Linked DNA regions of Homo sapiens. The protein of the gene in region 5 interacts with the protein of the main gene of each other region in a biochemical or structural test. Each region holds a gene or a part of one and is shown on either strand. Other genes may lie near its edges.

The links.
Region 1: the proteins of NFIC (region 5) and PAX2 form a complex in vitro, tested with the Homo sapiens proteins (one study listed by BioGRID).
Region 2: the proteins of NFIC (region 5) and LHX2 form a complex in vitro, tested with the Homo sapiens proteins (one study listed by BioGRID).
Region 3: the proteins of NFIC (region 5) and SOX5 form a complex in vitro, tested with the Homo sapiens proteins (one study listed by BioGRID).
Region 4: the proteins of NFIC (region 5) and PAX7 form a complex in vitro, tested with the Homo sapiens proteins (one study listed by BioGRID).

What each region holds. Positions count from the first base shown.
Region 1 is NC_000010.11:100,751,709-100,757,672, reverse strand, and holds part of PAX2 (paired box protein Pax-2), read right to left. Parts: intron 1-5,964. UniProt on the Homo sapiens protein: Transcription factor that may have a role in kidney cell differentiation. Has a critical role in the development of the urogenital tract, the eyes, and the CNS.
Region 2 is NC_000009.12:124,013,090-124,019,053, reverse strand, and holds part of LHX2 (LIM/homeobox protein Lhx2), read right to left. Parts: intron 5,094-5,964; coding exon 4,891-5,093; intron 3,933-4,890; coding exon 3,529-3,932; intron 1-3,528. UniProt on the Homo sapiens protein: Acts as a transcriptional activator. Stimulates the promoter of the alpha-glycoprotein gene. Transcriptional regulatory protein involved in the control of cell differentiation in developing lymphoid and neural cell types.
Region 3 is NC_000012.12:23,539,296-23,545,259, forward strand, and holds part of SOX5 (transcription factor SOX-5), read right to left. Parts: intron 4,090-5,964; coding exon 3,916-4,089; intron 1-3,915.
Region 4 is NC_000001.11:18,733,980-18,739,943, reverse strand, and holds part of PAX7 (paired box protein Pax-7), read right to left. Parts: intron 4,313-5,964; coding exon 4,066-4,312; coding exon of another isoform or gene 3,905-4,065; exon of another isoform or gene 3,806-3,904; intron 1-3,805. UniProt on the Homo sapiens protein: Transcription factor that is involved in the regulation of muscle stem cells proliferation, playing a role in myogenesis and muscle regeneration.
Region 5 is NC_000019.10:3,431,420-3,437,383, forward strand, and holds part of NFIC (nuclear factor 1 C-type), read left to right. Parts: intron 1-2,098; coding exon 2,099-2,173; intron 2,174-2,857; coding exon 2,858-2,981; intron 2,982-3,663; coding exon 3,664-3,788; intron 3,789-5,964.

The DNA.
Region 1 (5,964 bases), on a different chromosome or scaffold from region 5:
TGAGCTCTGCCCACCGTTGTGTCCCAGGGCTGCTACCATGCCTCCCACTGCGGGACCACAGCTTTGGAGGAAGGATTGTGTTGGGAAGAGCGCCTTCTTGGCTGCTTATGCAATTGGTCCCTAACTAATCCTGCCAACAGGGCTTGGACCCAAGTATCAAAGTAAGGATGGACAGCTGGTCGCACAGCTCTTGTGGCATCATTGTAGCAAAGCCCCTCTTATCCAGGGTTAACTGGACTATAGAGTGTTACAATGCAAATAACTGAAGGAAAATGTGGCTCCAATTTGCCTAGACTGTGAAATGAGGAATCTTCAGCCTAGCCTTATTGCTGCTGCCACTTCGCCCAGTGGCCCAATGACTACTTGCCAATTGATCTGATGGCCCAAGTACAAGGTGTCCAGCCTTGCCTGTGACTGCAGGTCATGTCCTGTGAGCCTTCCTCCCTTTTCTCCTCTTGGCCTCAGGGCCTTTTCACCTAAAAGCAGACATAGGTAGGTACCCACAAACACACACAAATCCACACGCACAGAAGATATCAACTTCTACACTGCAAACCATCATGAATATATTCAAGCCATGCCTTGCTAGCCCCAAAACAAATAGCCTGTTCCACAAGAGAAAACCATCTCAACCTAGTAGTTCAGTGGTAGATAGAAAAACCAAACGTGATTTAATGTTTCAGCTGTCTAATATTTCACTTGCTATTTGGGCATTGGTTGTGAGACTCTATTTCCCACATCTCAGTTTCAGGAGCCCTTTCCCCTTCTCTGGACTCAACTGCATGGCTGGGGAGCTGCACTGGGGATAGCTGCACCTGAAGCTGCTTCCCCTGCAAGAATCTGAGCTCTGGACACCTGGCTTGGAGGGGCGGGGGAAGTGTGAGAAGAAACAGCAGGGATGCAGAGAACTGGCAGGTCGGATGAGCATTCTTTTAAAGGACAGGAAGTGAAAAATAAATTATTTTCAGTGTACAGATGCTCCTTAACTCACAACAGGGTAATGGCTCGATAAGTTGAAAATATTGTAAGCTGAAAATGCATTGAATACAGCTAATCTATGGAACATCATAGGTCAGCCTAGCCTACCTTAAACATGCTCAAAACATTTACAGTTGGCCAAAGTCATCTAACACAAAGACTATTTTATACCAAAGTGTTGGATATCTCATGCAATTTATTGAATACTGTATTGAAAGTGAGAAACAGAATGGTTGTTTGGGTACTTGAAGTATGATTTCTACTGGATGCTTGTCACTTTTACACCATTGTTCTCTTCTTAATATAAAAACTCCAATTCCAGGTAGACACAAGGAGGGGGTGAAGATAGACTTGAGTATTAAGAGGCAACCTGCAGAGTAGCTATTGTTGGACACCTAAGAAGCTGGGAGCGGACAATGGGGCTCTTTCATCAGTCCTGCTAAGAAGACTGGGAAGCAGGACCCCTATCCCATGTGGGCTCATAGGAACCCCCTTTTCAGAGGGGTTTTAGGGGGTATGGAGTGTGATTAATCTTCCACACCAGTTACTACTATTGTTCCTCTTTCTGTAGAAGCTGTAACATTCTAGTCCGCAAGCACATGCCATCATGCATAGTCACACTCTCCCATGTGCACCAGAACAAGCCCATTTCCCAAATGCTGTCCAAAACACATGTTCCCTACCACCTCAACTTCCAACATTGCCTGTCATTCCCTGGGTCTATTTTGCACAATACTCCCCATCTAATACCAACATGCATATGAAGCTATTGCTCTCCCCTGCCACATCTCCACCCCTTCCCTAATCTCCCCTACTCCAGGCACCCCTGTTTCCCTTCTCTAGGGGCTGCTCCTGTTTGGCCCCATCTCCACTTGGCTAATTCCCCCTGTGGCCCCTCTATTGAACTGTTGTGTTGTCCATTTCCCTGTGACAAGGGCTCTGGTTACAGAGTTATTGATTGGTTTTCATGCAGACAGATGGGCCCTTCCTGGGCTCCCATCGAAATCTCTGGCTGTATGGGCTGATTGTTGCCTCTCAGGGTGTAGGATTGCACTGGAGACCACCCTCCACGCAGCCTCCTTTGCCCAGGCCATGAACGGTAATAAATGGAGGCAGCCTGAGCGATAATAAAAGCAATTGAGTAGGTTACCTGTGCAGACACAAGATTTATGCCTCTTCATATTTGATGTGATTGTTTTATTGAGTTCTCAGAACAGTTGGGACACTATTTATTTATTCATTTTGGGTTTTCCCTCTCTTTTCTTCTTTGCGTCACCTTCTGAAATGCACCTGGAGCTGTTGTCAGGCCCAGTGCCTCCTGTCTGCCTCTTCTCGAGAGTTGCCAGCTGAGGTAGGAAGGCAGGGCAAGCAGCAATTGCTCTCACCAGAAACCCCTTTTGTAGCCTGAACACCCACAGAACCAGCCAACAGGGAGACAGTCAGACCAACAGGACTGTGGGCCAGGAAGCCCAGGCTAAAACAACTACAAAAACAAAAAGAGGCTTTTCAGGAGGACAACTCCAGCTCATTTTAAGGAATGAGAATTTCAACCATCATGCCTGTTTCAAATGTTATTCCAATGATGGGTAACCTCACAGTAGGGGACTGTCTCTGGGAAAGGACAGGTGAGCGAGGCTTCTCTGACAGAAATTGGCATGTTGGTCTGCTATTTGTGGGCCCAATCTGCTAGGCTCAGGCCACAGAAGGTGAGTTCCCTGTCCTTGTTTCTGCCATTCCTCTGTGGATAGAAGTCTTTTTCTGAACTCTCCAACTTGCCCTGTCTCTTTGCCATGAGACCAACAGCCCTGACCACCAAACAGCTACAAAGATATGGAGATGTGGTAGGCAGTACCACCCCTCTGGCCAAGCTTCATGCCAAGCCAGGTCCAAGAGTAGAATAGGCAATGTTCTGGAACCTGAGTTTCAGAGAGGGAGAAACAGACCCTAGCCCGGAACATATCTTCAACATTCACGGGGCTAGGATTAATAGCTCCCAGCTTATTTGGAAAGGTCTTTGAACGAACAACTAGTAGACCATTGTCACCCCACTGCCTGACCCAAGGGGAACAATGACCTGAGAATGACTCAAAGACCTGAGAATGACAGAAGAGGGACACCCAAATGATACAGGATGGAATTCCTTAACACAGCCCTGGGTTGCCACTGCTAGGAGAATGAATGTACTCACCTAGAGCCTAACAGGCTAAGAGAGAGTGTGGATAGTGGGAGATCCGTGAGAAGTTGATTCTGCCAGGGTCCACTCCAAAGATCTAGGGGCAGAGAGTGCCCTGACTCCAAAGAGTGTTAGGCAAGCTAAAAAAGTTAGAAGGTGACACCCTTATTGTCAGCTCTTCCCAAAAGAGCACCCTCGGGGGATTGTCAGTAACCCCAGACTCTATTTGGGGTCTGTGCCTGTTCTTTCAAAGGAGGTGTATTCTCTGCCCAGAGTAACAGCCAAACCAGAAGATTTTGGCATATAATCAGGAAAATCCCTCCTGCTTAGACAATTGCTCAGCTATGTAACTAGACGACTTTTTCCTTTTTCAGTAGCATGGATCTCCCTCCACCTCTCCCCTCTCCAGGCCATGTCCCACACCAGGTTTCAATCTAAAGTCCCCTGTTTATAAACACCTGCCCTTTACAGCAGCGGTGTACAAACCAAAAAGCTGGCAACTCCATGCTCAGCCATTGGTAACCCAATGTTTAGAAAGATTCAGATAAATTCCACATGCTAAGGAGCCCAGTCAAGCCTTGGGATTTTTGAACGTGGTTTGTGGCAGTGGGGAGGCCTTCCTGACCCAGTCCTCTGGTTCAGAGAGGCATTTCTGAGGATTTGCTAGTGGAGAATACAGGCTGGATGGCCAGGCCTTTATCACAACAGAATCAGAGAATGCCAAAACCATTTTTAAAGAGTGAAAAAAGCAATTTAGTTTATAACCATAACAGCATATTTCAAGTGTGGCGACAGCATCTGTTTTGGGAAGGAGAAGATGAAAAACCACTAGCTCAGGTGGGTGAGCATGTGTGGACTTCTTTTCTTGCCAACCACCAGCTCATGCACAACCTTACTCATAACTGTTATAAAGTACCCAACACAAGTGGGCAGGTCACTACCAACAAAGCTCTAAACTCAAGAACCACCCGTTCCCCGGTGCACCACACTTTGTGCACACAGGAAAATCTCCGGGCTCTTCCTACAGTGAGTGAGAATTCCCAGAACTGATAAAAGGCAAAGTTTCTGATATAACCAGCACTAGCAGAAACATCCTGTTTTTATCAGGCTTTTGGGTGAAACAATACATCTCAGATAAACCTTCCCTCTTCAGAGCAAAAAGCACCTACAGGGATGAAGATGAGAGCGTGGTTCCCCAGGTGGATTTCTCCAGCCCCAACTCAGCAGCACACAGGGAAGCCCCCAGAATTCTTTCCAAAATATGAACCATGAGAGGATTCTGGACAAAAGCAAAATTGGGAATAGTTTTCCTGCTCCTTGTAGACAAAGCCAGCCATGAAGCCTAACTACGGACCCAGGGTAGGCTGCCCGTGTTGTTGGTGGCTTACCTGTTCCTCTCCTCCTACTCCCTCTCCATCTCCAGCAACATCTGCCCACAGATGGCTATTTCTCCACACCCAAAGGAAGCCTGTGTGCCCCTCAGGTGATAGGGCTCTGTGCTGGGCAGGTTCTGCAGCTGTCACAGCTGTCAAGCTGAGGCTACTCTTTCCCCACCCTCATCTCACTTGTGGCTCACTTGTCTACTTTGTCCTAATTCTGGTGGGTGCACCTCAAGACCTCTGGAGCTTGATCCTAGGGTCACCTGGCCCTTGTTCTCCATGGCTTTTCAGGATAGAAGTATTTCCAAACTTATGCCTAAGCCAGCTTCCAAAATCATCTCAGCCAATGAGGAGTGCATGTTGTTGAGGGGAGGGGCAGGGGGTGTTGGACGGGGCCACCACACCTGACTTGTTGCGCCACTCCTCTACCCCATTCAAGAGAAACAAATTACCTAAATCCTACATGACTTGGGTTTCTCCAAAGGCTTGAAAATTCTGTTACTGACAACAAGCATTTCTCTTAAATGTTCTGCAGAAGACCACTACCCAGTCCCAGCAACACTGCACACAGCAGGGCCACTCTTGGCCCTTGGCTGTTCTTCTCTTGAGATCTCAGTTCCAACTCATGCCCAGGACCAGCAATCAGCCAAGAGACTGAGTCTCTACATGGCTCATAAAACAATGCTTTGTCCCCTTCCCCTCCCGAAGTGCCACTCTTGCCTCAGCCCAAAGCTGCCCCAGCCTCCTCTCCTGGCTTTTAAAGCAAAGGGCTTATTCCTCTCCCAAACCACCCAGCGTCTTTCTCCAGCTCCTTTGGAAGGTATCTGAATGTCAAATCGCTATGCTTTCAATACCTGGCTGAGCCAGGCCGAGGGAGCTGGAGGGTTTTCGGAGGGTGTATAATTAGCTGATCAGTATTATGTTACCCTGTTCATAACTGAATAACCATTTTAATACAGATGGCACACACTGGGATAATTTCTGGGGTCGCCTCGCAGTACATTACAGCACGAGTGTGGCAGAGGGAATCTTCTTTAGCCAAGGTACATTCTACCAGCTAATTTTACCTGCTGTTTTCAGGATGATTTGGGATAATTCCATATCATTTGCAAAATATTTAAAAAATCCTTTATATGTGATGCCAATTTCAGAATAAGGCACCATGTGAATTATTAGTTGCCCTGATAATGAGCTTATGAAGAATGCAAAAAATAACAAAGGTATGAACTGCTTAGCCCTCTTTTCATTTTGGGGTGTCTCAAAATGGGGGGCCAAGGCTGGTGTGTGACTTGTGCAGGGACTCTGTGAACAACTGTCAGTTTGTACAGTTCTGTGATCTTGAAACCAGCCTGGGTTCCTGAGCCCAGTGCTGCTTGTATGTTCTGTAGCTACCACAGATAGGCATATTGGCACACTGGCTAGGGTGGACATGCA
Region 2 (5,964 bases), on a different chromosome or scaffold from region 5:
CCAGTCCCCAGCTCCACTGGGGGTGGGGCAGCCTCCCTACGGGGTATCTTTGGGCCCATCCCTCCACCGAGCCCCCGCCTGGGCCTGGCTGCTGTTAATGAGCTCCGTGGGGACCCCGGCGCCCCCATGGGCCCAAGGGACCTGCCCTGAGTGCCGCCTAGGTGGGGTAGTAGTGCGGGGGAGGGGGACAGAAAGGGCAGAGAAAGGAGAGAAAAAGACAAACACAGAAAGGCAGAATGGAGGGAGAGAAAGAGAGAGGGGGTAGGGACGGAAGATGGACAGAGCCAGGAAAAAGAGAGGACAGACAGAGGAAAAGAAAGCGAAGGAGCCAGGAGAACCACAGAGAGACAGCTACAAAGACAGCAAGAAATAGGGAGAGCGGAGGGGAAAGCGAGTCCCGGAAACAGGCGCAGCTTGTGGCGAGGGTCCGGTGGCCGAGCTGAATCCCGGGGCTCCGGGAGACCCGGTCCCTGCGGGGGAGGCCTTTTCCGAAGCCGTTATTGGCGGGGGAGTAGAGAAAAGGGGAAAGAAGGGGAGTGGAGAAAAAGGGAAAGGAGCCGGCCCTAAGTAGCGAGGCCGAGGCCGGCCAGAGGCAAGGGCAGGGGGCGGCGGCGGGGGAGGCAGCCGTGGGGCCCAGGTTTGGCCGGCGCCCCGAACCCCCTCACTCCCGCCCCCAGTGCCCGGGGGCGGGTCGAGATTCCCCAGGATCGGATCCGGGGAGGAGCGAGGGGCCGAGGGGAGGGGGAGGACCCGGGCTTTCTCTCTCCTTTTTTTTTTTTTTCCTCTCAATTAGGCCGATTCAATGGAGCTAAAGAGCTCGTAAAATCATGAATAATTTACTCGTGATCTGTTATTAACCCATCGGGTTTCGAGCTCTTGTCGCTGGGACTGAACCTGTAATCAAATCTGACTTCGCCTCATTTTACTAAAGACGAGATTGTAGGTTCAATTGTCTAAATAATGGATTGGAATCAAATCAGTAATTACGCCGCCAGGCACACACACACAAAAAGCTGGGGCTGGGGGAGGCCGGGCGTCCGGCCGGTCCGCGCGGGACTCCCGCGGCCGCGGCGCGCAAACCCAGGCGCAAAGTGCGCGGCCCGGGCCCCTCGCCCGCTCCTGCCGCCGTTTTCGCACCCCCAGCCCGCTGGCAGCCCCTCCCGGGGTAGGGGGAGGTTTCCGTTCCACCGGGGCCCGGGCCCGAGGGGCTGCGGGAAGAGGCCGCTGCGGCCCCGCCCCGGAAGGACTTTCCGACCCCGCGGCCCGCGGCTCTGCTGTAAGCCCAGCGCCCGGCGCCCCGACGGCGCCCCCTCCCCACTCGGCCCCCAGCTCGCCGCCCTTCAGTAAGGTGCCGCCGCGCCTCGGAGGGACTGTCCCCAGAGCAAGAGGCTTTGCAAGGGGTCGTCGTGGCTGGGCCACAGGATGTGGGACACTGCCACAAACAAGCTCGTGTCCCCGTGGTCGGAACCCTGCACGCACACGCACACGACCCGCGCCCGCACACCCCGTCCGCGATCGCACCCTCCAGGGTCCCCGCTTTCCAGTCCTAGCTGCCCCGCGGCCCACACTGCGGCCATTTCTCTCCTGCCAGTGCGGGAGGGGAGGGAAGGGCGGACGCCAGATCTAGGAAGACTGGGCTGGGCCCCGAGAGGCCGGGGAGATGCCCTCTTTCCCCAACCTAGTCCCGGGAGCCCCGAAAGAGCCAGCCGCATAGCCACCGCCGGCGCACCGAACGCCGTTTCTCTCAGGACTAGGAGCCCCGGCCAAGGTCGGAGAGGAGGGCACGGGAACAAACACGACACACACAGAGACAGAGATAGAGAGAAAGGACGGAGAGAACGGAAAGGAAAAAAAGAGAGAGGGAGGCCAGAGAGAAAGTGAGATGGCTGAATGGAGGGTGTCTCTTGTAGAGGTTAAACAAGGCTTGAAATTCAGCCTCCAGCCCACCTCGCTGGGGCAAACGGCGGCTGAACAGCAAAAAGCAGAAATAAATCTCTGTACCTTCTACTCTCTTTTTGCACAATCCTAAAACCGGCGCCGAACCTCCGTGCCCAGGAAAACAATACAGCTCCCCAGCCACCAGGTGCCCTGGAGCCGAGCCCCGCGAGGTGCTTCCGAGTGGAAGTTGACCCACTTGATAAATAGAAGCGGCTTGGTGTTGGGGGAGCCGGTCTGAACTCGGTTTTGTCTTTTTTTGGGGGGTGGTAGGAGAGGAGGGATGGAAGTTCCAGAGAGCTACATCTGTGGTAGTGCCTTCAGCAAATCTTAAATCCGCGCCACCGACCGGCCTACCGCTGCTTCACCATTTACCAAACTGGGGGCTGCGTTTTCCTCCCAGTTCCGCACACAGGGACACACGCCCCATGATCCTCCAAGCGATTTCGTTGGAGCGAACACCCGCCCCTCATTTCCCTCTCTATTCAACTCAGATTCTTTAAGATGAAAATAACTGACTTCTTCCCGCCGTAGCACCCTCTGCACAGTCTTGGGTTTGTTTTTGTTTTTGCTTTTTTCTGCTTGTGCATTAGACTAAAGGGAAAAGGAAGAAGAACACAAAATCTCCAAATCTAATTCTGTTGCAAACGAAAGAAAGAAAATAATTGCACATAAACTCTAGTTCGGAAGCCCGGAGAGTCATAAACCTTTCCGGGCCTTGCAGACTTCGGGCAGATGTTGACGGCTCATTTGCCGGAACTCAGAACCTCTGCAGCTGTCCTGAGCAGGGAGGGGCGCGGGAGGGGGCAGAGCTTCTCCGGGAATGGCCTGGGGTTCAAAGATGCCGGAAATCCGAACCAAGCCCCCCACCTCACCCCACCCCACCCCACCCCGGCGCGAGGCCAGGCCTGCTCCGGTCTCGTCCCCGCCCGGGGGGCTCGCTTCCGAGGGTCACGGCCCTCACCCCAGCAGGCGCCAGGAAACTCGGAGGAAAAAGTCCGGGAAAACTGAGACCTGTCTTTAAAGGAGGATCGGGCCGAGCAAAAGGAACCGCAGCCTTTGCTTTCCTGAGTTCCCCAAGCCCGAGTTCCCCAAGCCTGCCGCCCTTGGGACATTTCACGAGGTCAGGCCGCACTCCAGGCCGAGCTCGGCGCCCCGGGCCACAGCCAGCCCTTTCTCTTGGGACCCTCGCCGCCCTGCCTCGTTCCTTCGCTGCCCCAGTTCCCGGCCCTCAGCCGCGCCAACCCAAAACCTGTTTGGCGTCAGCGCCGCCTTGCTTTCTCCATCCCTGCCACTTCCTGCCTAGCAAAGTGGGGCAAAGGCCCAAACCAAAAAGCCATCTCCAAAAAAACAATTTATCAGAGACAAGGCCCTGCACCCGGAGCAGCAAGGGACCACTGCACCCTCTCCTCCCGCTCCAGCCGAGGACGCACAGTCTGGAAGCCCAGGGGGCTAATGTCCCTTCTGCGAGGCCGTCCGGTGCTTAAGGCTCGCTATTTGCCCAGCACACAGAGATTCAATCCAGCTCCCGGCCGTCGAGGCCGCACACTTTCCCCCAACCCTATGGGGGCGCTTCGTGCGCCGCGCACTCACCAGCGTTGTAGGCCGCCAGATCCGCACCGGGGCCCGGGCTCTTACGTTTCCTCGGCCGCCCCTTCTGCACAGTGCCCACGCCATTGTAGTAGGGAAGACCCAGAGGGTTGGCCCCTGCTGCGCCCAGCCCCGCGCTCTTGGCCGCCGCGGCTGCAGCGGCCGCCGCTGCCACGTCGGCATGGTTGAAGTGTGCGGGGTACTCGCCCTGCAGCAGCGCCTCGAAGTGCAAGCGGCAGTAGACCAGGCTGTCCTTCATGCCGAAGTGGTCGCCCGTGGTCAGCATCTTGTTACACGTGGTGCACGTGAAGCAGTTGAGGTGATAAACCAAGTCCCGAGCGCGCATCACCATCTCCGAGGCCGAGATGCCCAGGTGGCAGCGGGCGCAGCGCTGCACAGAGAAGCGCCTGTAGGGACCATGGAGGGAGGGGCTGTGGGAACACACGGTTGGGTACCCCCCTTTTCCTCCTCCAGGTGCCGCTGCTGCTGCGGGGGGCAATCCCCTCCTCAAGACGAACAACCCGGCCTTTATTTGGAGGATGGGGGGGAGAGAGAACTAGATTTTGACCCAGGCCTGGTCCTGTCCTAAAATAGTTTCCCTTAACACACTTATGCCTACAGAGACTTCTACTTCACCCAGAGTCTCCGCAAGCCCTAGGAAAGCCTTTACCTGGGAGTGGAGGGAGACACTTACCACTTACCCCCTCCTCAACCTTTACTCCTCCCTCCAAACCAGCGCCTGGGAATCCTACTGACTTTTATAATTTGGAAGAAACACAGAGACAGGGAAAGAGAGAGAGACACAGACGTAGAGACAGAGACAGAGAGAATATACATAGACCCTAATCCTAAAACTGGGGAGAAGGAGAAACAGAGAACTTGGAGTCTACTAGTGATTCTGGTTCTTTGATCTTGGCCACCTTTCATTCCCATTTTCTCAAAAGACCTGGAAATGCACCCACTCCCACAGCTCTCTTTCCAGCTGTGTTTCACTCCAGCTTGGGCTGCCTAGGTTTGGGGGTGCCTGTTTCTATAACCTCGGATTAACTCAAGAAACTTCAAAGAGAGAGGGGAGCAAGGATCCCAACTCAAGCTTTTTTGTGGTCTAAGCTCCGAGCAGGAGGGCAGCTTCTGCTTTTTTTCTGGTTCTCCTACTTCGTAGACCTTTCCAAGAGCTCCCCAAATTGCTGCTTTAAAAGGTTATCACCCAACTTGTGGTGGCTTGGAGAACTTGGGGGGGGAGCGGGGGAGTCCTGAGTAGTGAACCCTCTCCTGGGACTAAACGGAAAGGAGAGGGCCAAACTGTAAGACTGTGCCTGAGATTGGGGGGAGGGGTCCTGAGGGGCAGTTGGGTGGGGGGGCTACCTGTAGTAGTCTTCCTTGCAGTAGATGCTACCGTCCTTGCTGAAACAGGTGAGCTCCGACTCCAGGTTGAGCTTGCACTCGCAGCACTTGAGGCAGCGCATGTGCCACTGCTTGTCCACCGCCAGCAGGTAGTAGCGGTCCGAGATCTTGCCCCCGCAGCCGGCGCACAGCGCGGCGCGGTCACTGCTGATGGACGGCATGGTCTGCGAAGGGAGGGAGGCGGAAGACAGCAGCGCCTGCGTCAGCCAGCGGCCCCTCCGCCGCCGGGAAACCGGCACCCACAACTCCCTCTGTGGCCTTGGCTACCCTGAACGCGGAGGGGGCTGCCAGGACATGCGGCGCGCTTCCCCCCACCCCAAAAGGCCCATTTCCATTTCTGGGCGGTTCAGAACCCAGGCCTGCCTGCGCAGCCCTCGCCAGCCACGGGCCCAGGCCGGGCTCCTGGCCTAAATGGCTCTGGTGCTTACCTCTCTTCCTTCCAGTCCTCCCTGTCCTTTCCCCCAAAATGCTCGGGCTGTGTTTAGGGACCAGGACAGCTACTCCAGTCAAGCCCTCCAAGAGCTTTCCCTAAACTGCTTCTTAAATGAGCCACCCGGGGGATAAGGTGACCATTAAGTCACCCTCCACACAGAATCCTCTTTGGAGAGACAGCGGAGTTCCTGGGCCCCAGCTCCAGTGATCCCTGGATCCTTAGACCAGAGGTTAAGGCCAGGACAAGTCAGCCAACTTCTGGCTCCTCTGCCACACGGGCTGGGGCCCTCTTGGGTCCGGGGATGAGGTAAGTGGGGTGCAGGGACACCCTCAAAGTCCGTGGGTGAAGGACAGGTTCAACCCAAATACTTCCCTATCCAAACTGACCAGCAGAGAAGGTCTAACCGAAGAAGCGCTCAGAGGCCGGGAGGACACTGGCGCCGCTGCTCCTGCTCCCGGAGCAGAGAAGCTTCTCCCGTGCTCCCCACCTCCGCGGCCTCCTAAAGGTCACTTCTGGGCCCGCTGGTCGGGCAGTGTCTGCTCGTCTGGCCCCCAGGGAGGCCTGAGGCGAGGAACTGGCTATTTGGGGCTGGGCCCGCGGAG
Region 3 (5,964 bases), on a different chromosome or scaffold from region 5:
ATATATAGTAGTGAGTGAATACAGAAAGTTATAGTTCCTGTCTCTTTGCAGCTTATATTCAGTCAGGGAATATACATTAAATATCTAATTACAAAATTTATTATTTTCCTTATAGTTGTAGAAAGTACAGGAAGGTAAGAGAATATGATGAGGCAAGATCAATCCTCTGCAGGTCAGGAAGGCTTTGCTGTAGAAATGACTCCCGTGGGGCTCACAAAGAGAAGAGCATCCTATTGAGGAAGAATATAATAGTTGAGGTCTTTCGGTGGAAAGAGGAGTTAGACTAACTTAAAGAAAGCTGGTCTGGCTTAAAAAAAAAAAAAAAGAGGAAAAAAAGATGCGTGTATGTAAAGAAATGGGATAATAAAAGATGTGTAAATTCTCAGATAAGTTGGCTTCCAAATCTGGCATGAACGGGAATTATAAAATAGTTTAACTCTTGATAGTATAATTTCTTTGAGAGTATCACTGAATCCTAAATTACACTTTAAAATATGGCCATATAATAATTCCAAGTCTTTTCAAAACTAAGAATAAAGATAGGCTAAGTACTAACCGGGTCAAATGGCTGACTGACTACTATATTTTATGACAGTACAGGGCAGTGTTTCCATTTGGTGGTAAATCCAGTTTTCATTTTCAAAATAGTAACCTTGAATTAGCTTAACCAACTGACAAGTTTGGTTTTGATTTCAATGGCTTTGCAGGTACTATAACCATTGTATGCAGCTGAGGTGTTAACTAACCCCTGAAACATACTTGATGAGAATGGCAGGAAAATATTTTGGATAAACAACAATAAAAAAAAAAAAAGAGAGAAAAAATATCTACTTGATTTGGGGGTGGCTGGCTGCTTACTCTGGACTGATGTACAGGGAGTTTATTCATTCCCTGCTGCTTTCAAAAGGTTGTCGTTTTAGAATAAAAAAGCAGAGAAGGAGGGATAGCATTAGGAGATATACCTAACGCTAAATGACGAGTTAATGGGTACAGCACACCAGCATGGCACATGTATACATATGTAACTAACCTGCACATGGTGGACATGTACCCTAAAACTTAAAGTATAATAATAATAATAATAATAATAATAATAATAATAATAATAAAAAGCAGAGAAGGACAATTGGGTTTTCCTCCTGATGACAAAAGAGGAAGTTTCAATCAAAAGTATTTGATGCTCAAAATAGGGGAAAAAATAAGGTCCAACGATTATTCCTTTCCTTTCTAAATCTGGCAATACACTGAAAGTGAAGAGTTTGCGCTGGGCAACATTGTCATCTCCGTGGGGTCTGTAGTGAATTTGCACATTTTACTCCAACTAAACTACTGTATATCTAATCAGAAAAAGATGTCCCTCTTCCCCTGATCTAGCGCCAAGCAGTAAAAGGTGATTCCTTATGTTAACAATTTCAGCAGAATGGCTTATTAAAACCAGATTTTAGGGTATTATAAAATGCTTAGAAGCCCTTTAAAATGTCAACTACGATCCCCAGAGACTACGTAAAATGTCAACCCAGCTCAAGCGCCTGTTTTAAGCAGAATGAATTAGCGGCATGCTGTCGGAGGCTGTTATCCAAAACAATCAGCAAAGAGGAAAACATCAAGCTTTCTTTGTACTTTTGTATGAAATGGGTCATTTAGAATGATCTTGTGGATATTTGAAGATCACTTATTTATTTAAAGCTGTGACTAAATATTGAGCCCAAAATACCTCAATGTTTTATTTGTTCCTAAATATAAATGTTATATCTTTAAAGAATACATTTTCATCAGAAAGACTGAAATTAGGCAGTATTCTCTTTCATGTTGTCTATTATAATATAATCATATGGTCATTCTAATATTCTTTCCCTCAAATCAGAAGGGAATTCTCATAGCCAGTCATCTCTTTTCCATAGATACTTTTGCTACATTTCCTAAAATATCATTTCTTATCATCAAAACTGATATTTCTCTTATAGTTAAGATAGTTTTAATTAATGATTATCACCTTTTTGGTATTCAGACACAAGAATTGAATAATATAAAGACAGTTTTGAAATCTTAGTATTTAACTTGGTTTTTATTCTGACAATTTTGGATTTCTAATTTGGGAATAACTGATATATTAAAACATGAAATATGCTTACATAAAGTATTCTTTTCTAGAGTTTTCCCAAATGAAACTGGTATGTTGTTTTTTAAAGATAGGAAATTTCACATGGAAGGTAGAATATAGTCACAAAAAATATAGTCACAAAAGGGAAAAATAGATCAGAGCTGGTAGAGATGTAAAAAAATGTGTATTTCCTCTTGATCAGTTCAAGTTTTTGATTATGCATGATATATATTTTTACACACAGATTTTCATATTTTCTATGTATACTACTGAAAGCTTTGCATGTTCATGTCTTTTTAGATAACATTTAGGTGAAAAATGAGACACAATTTTAAGTGGCTAATGGTTTGTTTTGATCCCATTACAAATGCACCTTGTGGACTAGGTGGCATCTATTATCTTTGTTGAGAATATGGGATCATAAAAACATACGGCCGGGCGTGGTGGCTCATGCCTGTAATCCCAGCACTTTGGGAGGCCAAGGTGGGCGGATCACCTGAGGTCAGAACTTCGAGGCCAGCCTGGCCAAAATGGTGAAACCCTCTCTCTGCGAAAATACAAAAGTTAGTTGGGCATGGTGTCCCGCGCCTGTCATCCGAGCTACTCAGGAGGCTGAGGCAGAAGAATTGCTTGAACCCGGGAGGCGGAGGTTGCAGTGAGCCGAGATCACACCACTGCACTCCAGCCTGGGCGGTAAAGCGAGACTCCATCTGCAAAACAAAACCTCATGCATATGTTTGCCATTTATAGATGATCTGTAATGAATCAAAAGTGATACTATTTTTATAAACTCCGTGTAATTCCAAGTGCCTTACGAATTCTAATAAAACTTTAATAATTTTGACAAATTTTGTTACTTATTTGTTAAAACCAACATTTTCTGATAAAATGTTTCTATTCTATTTTTGTCACTTAACTCTTAGAAGTCACAGAGTGAATCATCAAAATTTTCTTAGGTTGTCTAGTATCTGGCCATCAGACAGTGATGAATGACAATGACAGTGATAATGATGTCAGATAAGGCACAAAAGCAATGGAATCTTCTTTTTTTCTTTTTCCCCCTGGGACCTGAACTGGTCTATAATAGGTATCTTTATAATCAGCACCCTTTCTCCCCAACCATTTTTCCTGTGTGCTACAGTCTCTGTGTGGGTAGAGTAAATGCGTACTTTGTTTTCTGTTCAATTGAATGTTGCAATGGCAGAAAAGTATTTAGTATGACTAAAAGTACCTTTAGTACTTAAGGTTACTAAAAGTATAAATGTAAAAATGTACACTCTACATCTTCTTGTGTTCTGAAAATCTAAAACTGATTTTCAATTATAGCACTGGAACAAACATCTTCCCCACCTCCACCCTCACCCCCACAACAAGATGAATTCCGCAAATAAAACTCCTTATCCTTCTGTTACAGAGGATGATGAGAGAGGAAGGAGGCCTTAAGATTAACAGTAAGTTGTCTATAGTATGCAAGGAAATGAATACAAATGATCAGTAGCAATATCTAGTGGCTCATGTGAAAGCAACTTTTTTCTCAGCTTTAGTAAAAATATTTCTAGATTTTTGAAGAAGATAAAGCATTAAAATAATTAGTATGAAGACAAACAGCTACATGAGCTATAGAAATATGGCATATTTCTCAATGGACATAGAATGCTTCATCACCAGAAGAAGCCTCAATGATGATGTTTATTTTCTGGATAAGCAAATAACACGACCTGTATGGCCTCCAAATCCAGGATCCTTCCACAACTGCAGAAAACAGAACAGTACCTTTATTCCATACGTCACTTAGTTCTTAATGGTTTTCTTACCCAATATCTTGCTGATGTTGGAGTTGTGCATGTCAGGAAAGGCTTGAAGGATCTTTCTCCGTTCATCTTTAGCCCACACCATGAAGGCATTCATTGGACGCTTTATGTGGGGTTCATTGCTACCACGCCCTCGGGATTCCCTATAAATTCTTGACTCTGAGACTCCAGCACTTCCTGAAAACAGGAAACATCACTTCGTGTTAGCGTTAAAACTTTTGTCAGCTCTTTTCCTTGCATTCCTATTTTTCAGTCTATTAAGATATCTGAAAAGAAAAAGTACTTCTGATAATGGTACTTCCAGTTCTTAAGACAGATGCTTGTTTATGAAGTTTTTCTGATAAGCCTTGTGGTGGCAAATGTTATATTTGTATTTTTAACCAATTTCTAATCTGTTTTCTCTTTCTTTCAATGGACTGTTTCACCATTTACTTTCAACAGCTCAAAATAAACTCCGATATGTGATTTTTGATGCAATTCGGAAAGAGGATAGTCAGATTAAATCAACAGGCATACCAGTAGTGTAGAAACATTAAATAGGTAAAGAAGCACAAATCAATTTGGCAGAATGGATGATTATAGGGGAGGATATATCTTTGCTACTTAAAGACTGTCTGAACATATAGTACCTTATGTTCTCTTTCTCTCTCCGAGGTTACAAAAATAAAAACACTGACCAAATTTTGAGGTTAAAAACAATATAGGTATTTCCCTGTAATATAATTGGCTTTTCTTTGAAATTATATGCTGACAAATGCATGACATATGCTGATACAGCAATGACAGGTCTGCCCCCCAAAATATATGTAAAACTGGTATGGAAAAGAACAAATGAACAGTTACATTCCTCTAGTTTCTTAAGGAGTCTACAGTCACATGTTTAAGATGAGAAAAATAATAATTTCCTTTGAATTTTCCCCCTAATATTTAAAGTTATCCAAAGAGTCCCATGGACAGTCACATTTCAATCAGTAAGATTCACAGATGATAAAACACAATTCAAGAGTTAACAACGATAGCTTTGGAAGCTGCATTCACTCCTCCAGCCTTATGTGACCCCTTAGAATGGCTTCAGCAGATTAAATTGCTTCCAAGATACTTGAGTTTAGGCAAAGAGAAAATAAGGAGAACCAGTAGAACTCTGACAGTAGGTTTTCACTGGGTATTATCACAAAATAAGTAGATGTATTTTGATAGTATCCAAAACTTTAAAAATACTTTGGGGACTTGTAGAGACTGTATTATCAACAAAAGCACTGCTTTTCTTTTCTTGCTTTGTATTCATTCCTCATCTTTTCTTTATTTTTAAATTTGGAGACACAGGAATCAAACAAAATTGCCCAAACTTGAAGACCTCTATAGCAGCACATTCAAAACATAGCATACCTGTTGGTGAAGTTTCTCAATATTTTTCATTAATAACATGCTCTTTGATTTAATGAAAAGTAGAAAATATTTCACATACAAGCATGATTGAATTTAGGTAATGACAGCAACAAAAACTTTGATGTGTTAATGCTGATTACTGTGGGTATATTTTATCATGCTAATACAACTTAAAATTTATGAAATGTGTTATTACCCGTAATTGTCTTTTATTGACAAAATAAGTGCAAATATATGGCAACATCTTCCTAAAATGGGTTTGTAACTAGCAAGTGATCATTTGCACATCTGCCTTTTCTTGTTCTTACACCTTACAGCAACATAAGCAATAAAATGAACATTATGTGTCTTCATCAAATCTAAACAAGCTCTTTAAATGTACATAGGCTAGGTTTATCTTAGCTAAGTGGAGCTGAAAATAGAAGAAAATGTTTGCAACATTAGACCCAGAAAAATGCAAATTGAATCCAATTGAGTAAAATTCAGTTTTGATAGAATTACGTGTTTCAACGTTCAGGTTTGTTTAGTCCCTTGATTAGTATAGACCTGGTCTTAAAAGTAGAATTGGCCCAAGGCACAGAGTAAACAGTTGTGTATATTGGAGGATTCAAGGGGACCCCCTCTCAAAGTATGCATCTCACTGGTTTGCCTTTGTGCACTCTTCTC
Region 4 (5,964 bases), on a different chromosome or scaffold from region 5:
CAGATCTATTAAAATTCTTTTCACACTTCAGCGTTCTATCAGCCCCATTATTAGTACAGCCCTGGCCTCTGGGAACACCAGGGCCGTATTAATCTGCCATGTGCCCCATCCCTGGGCCCCTGCCCCCACTCCCCTAGAGACGAGGAAAGACGGACAGGTGGATGGACAATGGCCAGAGCAGGAAAAGGAGTGAAGGTGTCCCTGGCAAGATGAGAAGCCCACGGAGAAGAGGAGGAGTACTCTGGGGCCTAAGAGTTTGGCCCATGTGTAGGCTTGTTCCATGCACACCTGAAGGTGGCTCTCCAGGAACCAGGCTGCAGGTGTGGCTGTGTACACATCAGTATGGGCTGCCGGGTGACCTTGCATAAACAGCCTCTCTGGGATCCCATTTCCTCATCTGTCCAATGGGAATAACCACGTGTACTGCATAGGGTGGCATAAGGATGAAATGCTAGACCCATAGTAGATGCTCAATAAATGGTCGTTCCTCCTTCCTTTACACATGCACATTTTGTATATTTATATCTTAAAGCTGTGTACACACATTAGTGAACACTCACATATAAACCCCTCTCTCTGCGTGTGTGTCTATCCATATGCACATGCATGTGAAGCTGTGGACATGAATCCACGCATGGGTGGGCTCAGGTGTGTATCGCTGCTCAGTGGCCTCCACAAATCTGTGGTTTGAAGTTAGAAGACTTTGGGTCCACCATTGCCATGCTGTGGGATTTTGGAAAAGCTACCTCGCCTCTCTGAGCCTCGTTTTTGCACCTGCAACCTGGGGACAAATAACTTAGAGAATGACATGAATGAGGAGCATGCATTTTGCCCAGTGCCCTGTGGGATGAACTTGGGCAGAGGGCAGGTGTTAAGGGAGGACAGATGGACCTGGGCATAGGCGGGCACAGTCCAGGACATGGGACTCTTGCACACACACTGGGGCATCCCAGCCACAGATGGATTAAGTTGCCCAGGGATGTGGGGCAAGTGGTTAGCGGGAACATGATGTGTCTCAGGGCCTCCAAAATGCCAAAGGAGAGGGAGGTGGTGCAATGGAAACACTTTGAGACGGCTAAGTCTAATTCGTGGCCTCCATTTCACAGATGGGAAGACTGAGGCTCAGAGAGGCAAGTGTGTGGCTGCCTGCACTAATTGGGGGCAGAGGAGGGGGCTTTTCCTCCAGCCCTTCCCTCCCAGCTTGGGCCCAGAGTCTCTGTGGGGTGAGTTGGGGTCTGTGCTGGGCTCCCTTTGGGGAGGGCTGGAGAATGTGGCCAAGAGGAGCTCTGAGCTATTCCTGGAGAAGCCAGGGCAGCAGGGGTGGAGCTGGAAGGGGAGTGACAGGAGGAGAAGGGAGTGGAAAGAGAGGATGGAAAAGAGAAGAATGGAGTAGGGGGTGGTGGGGGAGGAGGAAGCTGCTCTGGCTGGCTTTGTCCAAGCAAGAGGAGAACAAACCCTCCTTTCTCGCCTCCTAGGCCCCTTCCCTTTTGATCCCCTCCCCTGCTGCCCCCATGCTGACTTTGGGGTTAATTTTATTTCCGAATTGAGCAGGCGCCCCTGGAGCAGGGCACCGAGCTTGGGTGTGACTAACGCCTGCCCCAGGCCGGGGCTGCCGCTGCCGCTGGGGTCACTCTAAAATATTTATCAAGAGCATGTGTGTCCTGCTGCATGCCCAGGAACACGGGCTGGGTCAGGAGGTCACCCTGGGACCCTCTGGAAATTCTCCCATGCACATGCGTGCACCCTGCTCTCAAATATACATGCAGACCCCCACGTACACATTCACACACACACACACACAGTTATACACACAGACACAGTGTATGTCTACACCCAGATGTACATCCATACACATGTACACACAGCCACACCTATGACATACTCAAACATACACTCATACACTCACCCCTATTTACACACTGCACACAGAATATGTGTCCACACACAGGTACTTCCAAACACACAATCACAGACACACTCAAGCATGTGTGCATGCCTCAATGCATGGCTATACACATGTACATACAGTCACATGTTTGCACACTCATATACATCTATACACACGCATACATATTCATTATACCTATCTACATATTGACATATGCATACCTATGCCAAACATGGAGGCACACATAAAGACACGCTCAACCATATGTACAGACTTGAATGCACATTTAAACATGTTTAAGCAGATACATATACTTACATATATGTGTGCACATGTGTGTTCACACACACAGATGTGCACATCATGTATGCACAATATGCTCATTTATGTGCACGCATGTGAAGTCATATACACATATGCTCACATGTGCCCACTGACACATACATGTATTCGCGCATATGCAAAGATGCATGCAATAACACATGGGTGCTGAAATAGAAGCATCACATGCACACACACACAAGAATTGTAACATGTCCCAACATACGTACTCACAAACACCCATACACACATGTGTACATACACATATGCAAACATGTACATGCACAGGAAGGGTTGTGAACACAGCTGGGAGGTGGAGGCCGACATAGCTGGCCCTCATTTGGCAGTGGCCCTCATTTGGCAGTGGAGGCCAACGACACGTGAAGAGGAGTGGGTTTGGGGGGGTGGGCAGGAAGCAGAGGTCAGAAAGGCTGGCCCAGGGCTGGGCTGGGGGAGAGGACACCCTCAGGGATGGGGGCCTCACCCTCTTGCCACACGCCCTTCTGATTAGTTTGACACCAGCAGGTGAGGCCTTTGCAGGGCGGTGGGGCAGGAAAGTGACCCATGACCTCTGGCTCCCTGTCCCATCTGGACCTGCCCTGCTGCTGGCCTTGCCAGGCGGTGGAGGCTGTGTCCAGGCCTGCGTTTTCCAGCCTTTGGTGTGAGGATCCACGGTCCCTGCCTCAAGGCAAGGCACAAAGGGGATAGCAGCTGGGATGGGTGCATGAGACCATTGCAGAGTTTGGAGTGGAGGAGAGAGTTGGAAACACAGCTTTCCCATGCCCTGCGGCAGAAGGGGCAGGGTCTCCCACTGAGCTGTCCAGCACAGTGGCCACCAGCAGCACATGGCTGCTGAGCACTTGAAATGTGGCTAGTGCGACTGGGAAACAGAATTTCAAATGCCGATTTCACTTGAACTAATTTAAAGTCAAAAACCAATCTTCAATTGGGTTATTTAGTAGTTGGAAAACTTACAATTTGGAACACTTTGGGTTTGTAAGTATATTTTCTCAGTTGCAAACTATATGAAATTTAAATACAGATCAAGTATTTCTGTTGAAAACTCAGTGTCCGAATTAAAATGGGCTGTAAGTGTAAAACACACACATGATGTCAAAGACATAGCATAAAGAAGAGAATGTAAAATATCTCAATAATTATATATGAATTGCATTTTGAAATGATAATCTTTTGGATGTACTGGGTTAAATAAAATGTTAGTAAAAATAATTCCATTGTTTCTTCTCCTTGATTTTTTTTTTTTTTTTTTGAGACAGAGTCTTGCTCTGTCACACAGGCTGGAGTACAGTGGCGTGATCTCGGCTCACTGCAACCTCCGCTTCCCGGGTTCAAGTGATTCTTGTGCCTCACCTACTTGAGTAGCTGGGATTACAGGTGTGCGCCACCATGCCTGGCTAATTTTTGTATTTTTAGTAGAGACAGAGTTTCACCATGTTGACCAGGCTGGTCTTGAACTCCTGGGCTCAAGTGATTCGTTTGCCTCAGCCTTCCAAAGTGCTGGGATTACAGGCATGAGCCACCACGCCTGGCCTGTTTCTTCTTATGTTTTAAAATGTGGCCACTAGAAATGTTAAGTGATATTTGTGTTGTGTATTTTATTTCTGTTGGAGCCATAGTACGGAAGCAGAGGCTTAGCCAGGAGATGTCCTGGGTTTTGCCCAACTCAGTGTCATTTTAGGTGAACTGTTCCATCTGGCTGGACTTCAATTTTTCCATCTGTGAAATGGACATTCCCCACCCTGACACCACCTTGTAGCTCTCCATAAACAAGCAGGAGGCCCTGGGGGTGGGAGAAGGAATGGGGACGGGGGACGCCCAGGGCACCAGGCACTCACTCTGGCCGTACTGGCCGTACTGATAGCCGGCCACGGGGTCCACGCTGTAGCCGGTGGTGCTGTAGGTGGGTGGGCAGTAGGCCTGGGAGGTGGGCAGGCTGTCTCCTGGCTTGATGGAGTCGGCCCGCTGGCTGCAGCTGGCTGAGATGGAGGTGGCCGAGTCCAGGCCGCCATGCAGCGGGGAGATGGAGAAGTCAGCCTGTGGCTGCGGGGGCACCGCACTGGGGTTGCCCAAGATGCTCATCACCTGTGGGGAAAAGGCCATTAGTGCCAGGCTCACCGGACAGACCCCAGAGACACGAGCACACTGGGCACAATGCCAGGCTGGCCCTGGAACACTCTTTGCCAGAGTTGTTCCCTTGAAGTCTCTGTAGCTTCGAGGTCCTCAGTTTACCTGATTTGCGTGCCCTCATGCATGGGATGGCTGCTGGTCTTCGGTGTTTCTCTTGAAGGAGGGTCCTGACCCAGGGATCCTCCTTCCACTGAGAACTCAGCAGGGCCTTACTCGCCTCTCTAGCTCCAGGGTCTGGCCCTAAGGGTCACTCTGGGCCTGTCTATTGAATGAATAAATGCATGAATGAATGCATGAATGAACGAACTGGCTAATGAGGCCTCTCCCATCAGTCAGGGAGTTCTCCAAGCTCAGAGAACTGTGCCTCCCCCATCAGACTGGGATGGCCCCATCTTCTAACACAAACATTACAGCAGGACTCTTGATCTGTCTGCTGTCACTGTGTGTGGCTTGCTCTGCCTGCCACTCCTCCGGACTCTGAGGTTCCTGCCCCTTCGACACTGAAGCCCACAGCCAATGCTTTCAAAGAGCCTCTCAGGCCCCTTCCTTTGATTCTACCAGCTCCTGAGGTCTGTGAGCATCCCCTCCTTCCCTGCCTGGCCAGGTTCCGCAAATAGGAACTCACTGTCAGTGCTGGCAACACAGACTACCAGGGGAGGCTTGTCTCTAGAAGCTCAGCTTAGGGGACCTGGATGGAGGTCCAGGTGTTCACTTACTGGGATGTTCACTTGTTTACTCCACAAACAGGCATGGATGGTGACTCTGGCCCCAGGCTGAGAGCTGAAGGCTCTGAGACTTCAGAGGAGAAAGAGCCATGGTCCCTGCCCTCGGTCGGGGGAGAGGAGGAGGAAGGGTCTGGGTCGGGTGAGGGAAGCTACTAGCAAAGATCATAGAGACATGGAGTAGTGATACAGGCATCTTATCTATCAAAGGACACAGAGGAGGGCACCCAGTCATCCTTGGCAGTCTGGGAAATCTAGGGGAGGTGGAACCTGCTGTCTAGCTCTCCAGGAAAGAGGACGGGGAGAAGCAGTGCTTTCCTGGGGTGGGACTGGGAGTGGTGCAGCAGGAGCTCCTGGAGAGTGGGAGGGCACAGTGTCCCAGTCAGTTCAGAGCAGAGCAGGGGAGAGGGCAGGAGAGAGAGGGCACAGTGTCCCAGTGAGTTCAGAGGAGGGCAGGGGAGAGGGTAGGAGGGAGAGGCAGGCCCTCGTGAACCTAACCTGCAGGGCCCAGGCCCCTGATGACCTCCTGGTGATGCCGCCCTTTATGGGAGGAAGACCCTGAGTATGAGGTGGGGACGGCTTTGCTGATAATCTGCCCAGCACCGAGACGGAGAACCACGTGGCAATCCCTGCTGGGCACACAGTTGAGTTCCCTGACTCCCCTTACAGGGTAAGAAAGCAGGCTGCGGGCATTCGAGCAGTGATCGTTTTGCCGACTAGACACCTTCTGAAGATTTTTACCTTTGCCTTTATTATTGGCTTGTGCCACAGGCATTGAGGCCTGGCCACAGTCGAGGGCACTGATGGATTCCTCGGGCTAGGGACAGACAGCGAGCTCCTCCGTTTACCAGCTGTGTAACCTCGGGAGTATCCCTGAGCAGTTAA
Region 5 (5,964 bases):
GTGCAGTGGTGCAATCATAGCTCACTGCAGCCTCAACCTCCAGGGCTCGAGCTATCCTCCCGCCTCGGCCTCCCAAGTAGCTGGGACTACAGGTGTGCACCACCACGCCCAGCTAATTTTTGTACTTTTTGTAGGGATGGGGTTTCGCCATGTTGCCCAGTCCCGTCTCAAACTCTGGGGCTCAAGTGATCCACCTGCCTCAGCTTCCCAAAGTGCTGGGACTATAGGCACAAGCCACCATACCCAGCTAATTTTCGTATTTTTTGTAGACACAGGGTTTCGCCATGTTGCCCGGGCTGATCTCAAACTCCTGAGCTCACGAGATCCACCCACCTCAGCTTCCCAAAGTGCCGGGATTACAGGCATGAGCCACCACGCCCGGCATCCTTTTCACGGCTGAGTCCTATTCCAGTGTGTGGCTAGACCACGCTGTGTTTATCTCTTCATCTTTTGAAGGGACATTTGGGTGGCTTTCCAGTTTGAGCTGTGGTGAACAGTGCTGCTAGGAACATTCGTGGACTTTTGCTGACCTATTAATCTTGGCTGCTGTCTGTCGCTCACACTGGACTTTGAGTCTCACAGGGGCAACTGCTTCAGCCTGTATCATCTCCTGCTGTGCCGGGGCCCAGCTCAGAATCAGACACTGTGGATGCTTAGTAAACGCCTGTTGAGTCCATGAATCCCTCCTACAAGGGCGTCCGAGGGCAGGACAGGGCTGTCCCCAAGCTGTCTGAGGTTGGCCAAGGCTCCCGACCTCTCGGGGACAACTTCGATTTCCAAATCTGTGAAATGGGTCCAAACCACTCCAGTCGAGAGGACAGTCTCCCTTCCTTTAATATTAGGTAGGAGCAATGCTGGGGACACTGAGGGTTTTAACTGCGGCTTGTGGGCCTCCCATTCAACCCCCCATTTTAACTGACCCATTGCTGGGTGCCAAGCTCTGGTCTAGGCACGAAGGACACTGCAGGGTCGGGGCAGACAGACATCCCTGCCCACACGGACCTCCCAGTCTGAAGGGGAGAAGAACAAGAAGCCAGAGTATCTCGAAGGGTGACAGTGTGTAAAGCAAGCCAGCTGCCCCTCCCAGGCAGTTGGATACAGATCTCACGACAACCCCGATGATGGGATTGATGGTTTCACTTTTGCAATTAGGGAAACTTGGAGGCTGAGAGAGGGAAAGTGACCTGCCCCAGATCACACACCGAGGCAGGTGATGGAGCCGATGTGAGCCCAGGCCTCCGCTTTCCGCTCTTTTTTTTTTTTTTTTTTGAGATGGAGTCTTGCTCTGTTGCCCAGGCTGGATGGAGTGCAGTGGCGCAATCTCGGCTCACTGCAAGCTCCACCTCTCGGGTTCACACCATTCTCCTGCCTCAGCCTCCCAGGTAGCTGGGACTACAGGCGCCTGCCACCACGCCCGGCTAATTTTTGTATTTTTAGGAGACAGGGTTTCACTGTGTTAGCCAGGATGGTCTCCATCTCCTGACCTGTGATCCTCCCGCCTCGGCCTCCCAAAGTGCTGGGATTACAGACGTGAGCCACCGCACCCGGCTCCACTCGTTTTTTAAGAGAGGGTGTCGCCCTGTTTCCCAGGCTGGAGTGCAGTGGCACAACAATGGTTCATTGCGGCCTCCACCTCCCAGGCTCAAGTGATCCTCCAGCCTCAGCCTCCTGAGTAGCTGGGACTACAGGCACGGACCACAACACCTGGCTAATTTTAACACTTTTTGTAGAGATGGGGTCTCGCTGTGTTCCCCAGGCTGGTCTTGAAGTCCTGAGCTCAAGCGTTCCTCCTGCCTCGGCCTCCCACAGTGCTGGGATTACAGGCATGAGCCACTGCGCCCGGCCTGCTGTTCACTTGAATGCAGCATTCCACAGCATGGGGGAACCCGGATGAAGGCTGTGTGAAGGCCCACACTGGACAAGGACCCCCCACGGGGCCTTCCCCATCAGACTGGAGCTGTCATTCCCCCACAGCACAGGATGGACAGGGGGAACGTCCAGGCTCGGGCCAGCCCCCAGGAGTCCAGGCAGCCCTGGAGTGTGGGGAAGGGAAACAGGCCCAGCTCAGCCTACTGACCCCGCTGTCTTCCTGTTCCAGACACGACCGACTTCCAGGAGAGCTTTGTCACCTCCGGCGTGTTCAGCGTCACTGAGCTCATCCAAGTGTCCCGGAGTGAGTGTTCCCGTCAGCCCTGAGCTGGGTCTTGGAGAGGGGAGGGGGCCGCAGGGAGGAAGGAGCCCACCCCCCTCACCCTACTCCTTGTCCTTTCCAGACAACCCCCTGTGTCACTAAGCCAAGGTTCCTAGAAAGGGAGGTGGCCAGGCCCTTCCCAGAGCCCAAGGTCAGGGCTCCCTCCCACCTCTCCAGGAAACAGAATCTAAATGCTGGATGGCAACTAAGGAAACTTCTGCCCCAGCATCCCTCCTCCTCCCTGGGGCCTCCACTGTCCTGTCCCAGGAGACCCCAAAGGACCCCGCCCCTCCTGTCCCCTTGCTTTCTCTGCTGACCTGCTGGGGACCCAGCACATTCCGTCACACACTGTCTGAATCCCACCCCAGCGAGTCCTGGGCGCTGTCCTTCTTTAGCCCTGACTGACACCTTCCCTGTCCAGATCAGCAGAGCCTGGCCTCCAGCTTTGGCTACACCTCTGCCTCACAGTGTGCTCTTGGCCTCTCCCCATGGCCTTGGTCCTCTGATCCATAGAATAAAACTGGTTTCAGCCACCCTAGGAACCGGGCCAATATGGGAAGGGGGTCCCCCTTTGGACTGCACCCAGTGGCTTTCCCTACCTCTCTAAAGCAAACCGCAGCACTGGGCACTGCTTCCTGCCTCACTCTCCTCTGTCACCCTCTGCAGCACCCGTGGTGACTGGAACAGGACCCAACTTCTCCCTGGGGGAGCTGCAGGGGCACCTGGCATACGACCTGAACCCAGCCAGCACTGGCCTCAGAAGAACGCTGCCCAGCACCTCCTCCAGTGGGTAAGTACCCAGGTCCCCACCTCTGGGCATTTCATGACCCCATTCATCAACCCATCCCCTCTGGCCCGAGCTGACTCATTCCTCTCCCTGGAATACCTCTTTTCACGATTCACCTGGCCTGAGAAACTCCTACTCATCTCATCCTTCAAAACCCAGCCAGCCCCACGTGCCTCTTCCCCTAGCCCTGACAGCCCACCGTGGGCTCCCCCAGCCTCAAGTCCTGCCGGCTCAGCCAGCCCTTAGGACCCTCCCCACCCAGAAGAATGCAGACACAGGTTGTTGCTGAGATATGCTTTGTGACCTCGAGCAGGTCACACTGTGTGTGCCCCAGTTTCCCCATCCATAAAATGGGATCATACCCCTAACAGGCAGTTCTGAGGACTACAGGTGGCCAGGAGATTAGCCAGGCTGCCTGGGTTTTGGTCTCCACCATGCTAGCTTGGTGTCCGACCTGTGTTGAGACCCTCCCTGCCTCTGGCCCGGGTGTCCCATCCAAGCAATGGACAGGTTGGAACAGGCGTTCGTAGGGAACGGGCTGAACGCCCGCGGCTCCCGCGATGTCTCGCGATACTACCTCCCTCGCCCCCGCTCACTTAAGGACCGGAAGTAGCAAAGCCCGCCGTCGCGCCCCCCGCCCCGCGTCTCCCTGGTAACCAGCCTCTCCCCTTCCCTCGCCCATAAGGAGCAAGCGGCACAAATCGGGCTCGATGGAGGAAGACGTGGACACGAGCCCTGGCGGCGATTACTACACTTCGCCCAGCTCGCCCACGAGTAGCAGCCGCAACTGGACGGAGGACATGGAAGGAGGTAGGGCTGGTGGCGGGGGCGGAGCCGGCCTTCCGGTCTGAGTCACCGTGGCGGGAACTACGTCTTCCGGCAGCCACTGCGCGGGCGCCGCGGGGCAGGAAGCCGGCCTGGAGCCGCGGGGCCTCCTGGGAATTGTAGTCGTCCCGAGCTGCGCTTGGCTGGAAGTACGGTCCGGGTTCGCGTTCTCGGATCTCTTTGGTTCCGCTGCGGCGAAGGAGGGCAGAGACTGTCCCCTGCCTGACTCTCCTGCCCTCCGGCCGTGAATGCCACATCTCTGTGGGGTCCCCGAGCTGCAGGATGGACTCAGTAGTGACTCTGATCAACAGGGCGCCTCTTCCTGGGATCTGTCATAGAATCCCTCGTCTGTAGGGACCCTGTTTGTCCTCTTCCCCTCTAGAAGGTCCTGAGATGCCGGATCCCTTCTCATTGGGGTCCTTCTTGAGGTTACTTTTTTTTTTAACCAGGTTCCCATCTCCATGGGATCTTCTGGTTCTGCAGGAGACTCGTCTCCTTTCTGTAGGGTCTCCATTCCCATGGCGTCGTTTTCTAGGAAGATTTTATCCTCTTGCTTTTCTGTCTTCAGAAGGGTCCTCTCTGGGGTGTCTTTCTTTCTTTCTTTCTTTCTTTCTTTTTTTTGAGATGGAGTTTCGCTCTTGTTGCCCAGGCTGGAGTGCAATGGCGCGATCTCCGCTCACTGCAGCCTCCACCTCCCTGGTTCAAGCAATTGTCCTACCTCAGCCTCCCAAGTAACTGGGATTACAGGCATGCACCACCATGCCCGGCTAATTTTTTCTATTTTTAGTACAGACGGGGTTTCACCATGTTGGTCAGGCTGGTCTCAAACTCCCGACCTCAGGTGATTCGCCCGCCTCGGCCTCCCAAAGTTCTGGGATTACAGGCGTGAGCCACCACGCCCGGCCTCTGTTTTTGTTTGTTTGTTTGTTTGTTTGTTTTTGAAACGGAGTCTCGGTCTGCTGCCCAGGCTGGAGTGCCGGGGTGCAATCTTGGCTCACTGCAGCCTCGACCTCCCAGGTTCAAGTGATCCTCCTGCCTCAGCCTCCCAAGTATCGGACTGCAGGTGCATACTGCCATGCGCCGTTAATTTTTTTTTTTTTTTTTTTTTTTTTTTTGGTAGAGATGGGGTCTCACTATGTTGCCTAAGCTGGTCTTGAACTCCTGAGTTCAAGTGTGATCTTTCCTCCTGCCTCGTCCTCCCAAAGTGCTGGGATTCCAGGTGTGAGCCACCATGCCGGGCCCCTCTTATTTTTTTTTAATTTTTGTTTTTTGAGATGGAGTCTTGCTCTGTCACCCAGGCTGGAGTGCAGTGGCGAGATCTTGGCTCACTGCAACCCTTCCTCCTGAGTTCAAGCAATTCTCCTGCCTCAGCCTCCCAAGTAGCTGGGATTACAGGCACCCACCACCACACCCGGCTAATCTTTATATTTTTAGTAGAGACAGTGTTTCACCATGTTGGCCAGTCTGGTCTCAAACTCCTGACCTCAGGTGATCCACCCACCTCGGCCTCCCAAAGTGCTGGGATGACAGGTGTGAGCCACTGCTCCCGGCCACCTGTAGGATTTTTAGAAGCAGTATAACATTAGGATTAAGAGGTCAGATTCAGGCATTGGAGAGACCTGGGTTCAGATCCCAGCCCTGCCCGTGTCTAGCTCTGTGTGCTGTGTAACCTGGGGCACATCACTTAACTTCTCTAAGCCTCAGTTTCTTCATCTCCACAATGGGGGTGATGTGAATAATGTTCTTTGGGAGCTACAGGAGGAGGAAGGGTAGGATGTGCGTGAAGCAACCGTCTGGCCCATGCGACATACCCGGGAAACGGGAGGTCACTGTCATCCACGTCTTTATAACATTCCTGTCTCTGACCAGGCTCGGTGGCTCACGCCTGTAATCCCAGCACTTTGGGAGGCCGAGGCAGGCGGATCACGAGGTCAGGAGATCGAGACCATCCCGGCTAACACAGTGAAACCCCGTCTCTACTAAAAATACAAAAAAAATAGCCGGGCGTGGCGGCGGGTGCCTGTAGTCCCAGCTACTCAGGAGGCTGAGGCAGGAGAATGGCATGAACCCGGGAGGCGGAGCTTGCAGTGAGCTGAGATGGCGCCACTGCACTCCAGCCTGGGTGACAGAGCGAGACTCCGTCTCAAAAAAAAAAAAAAAT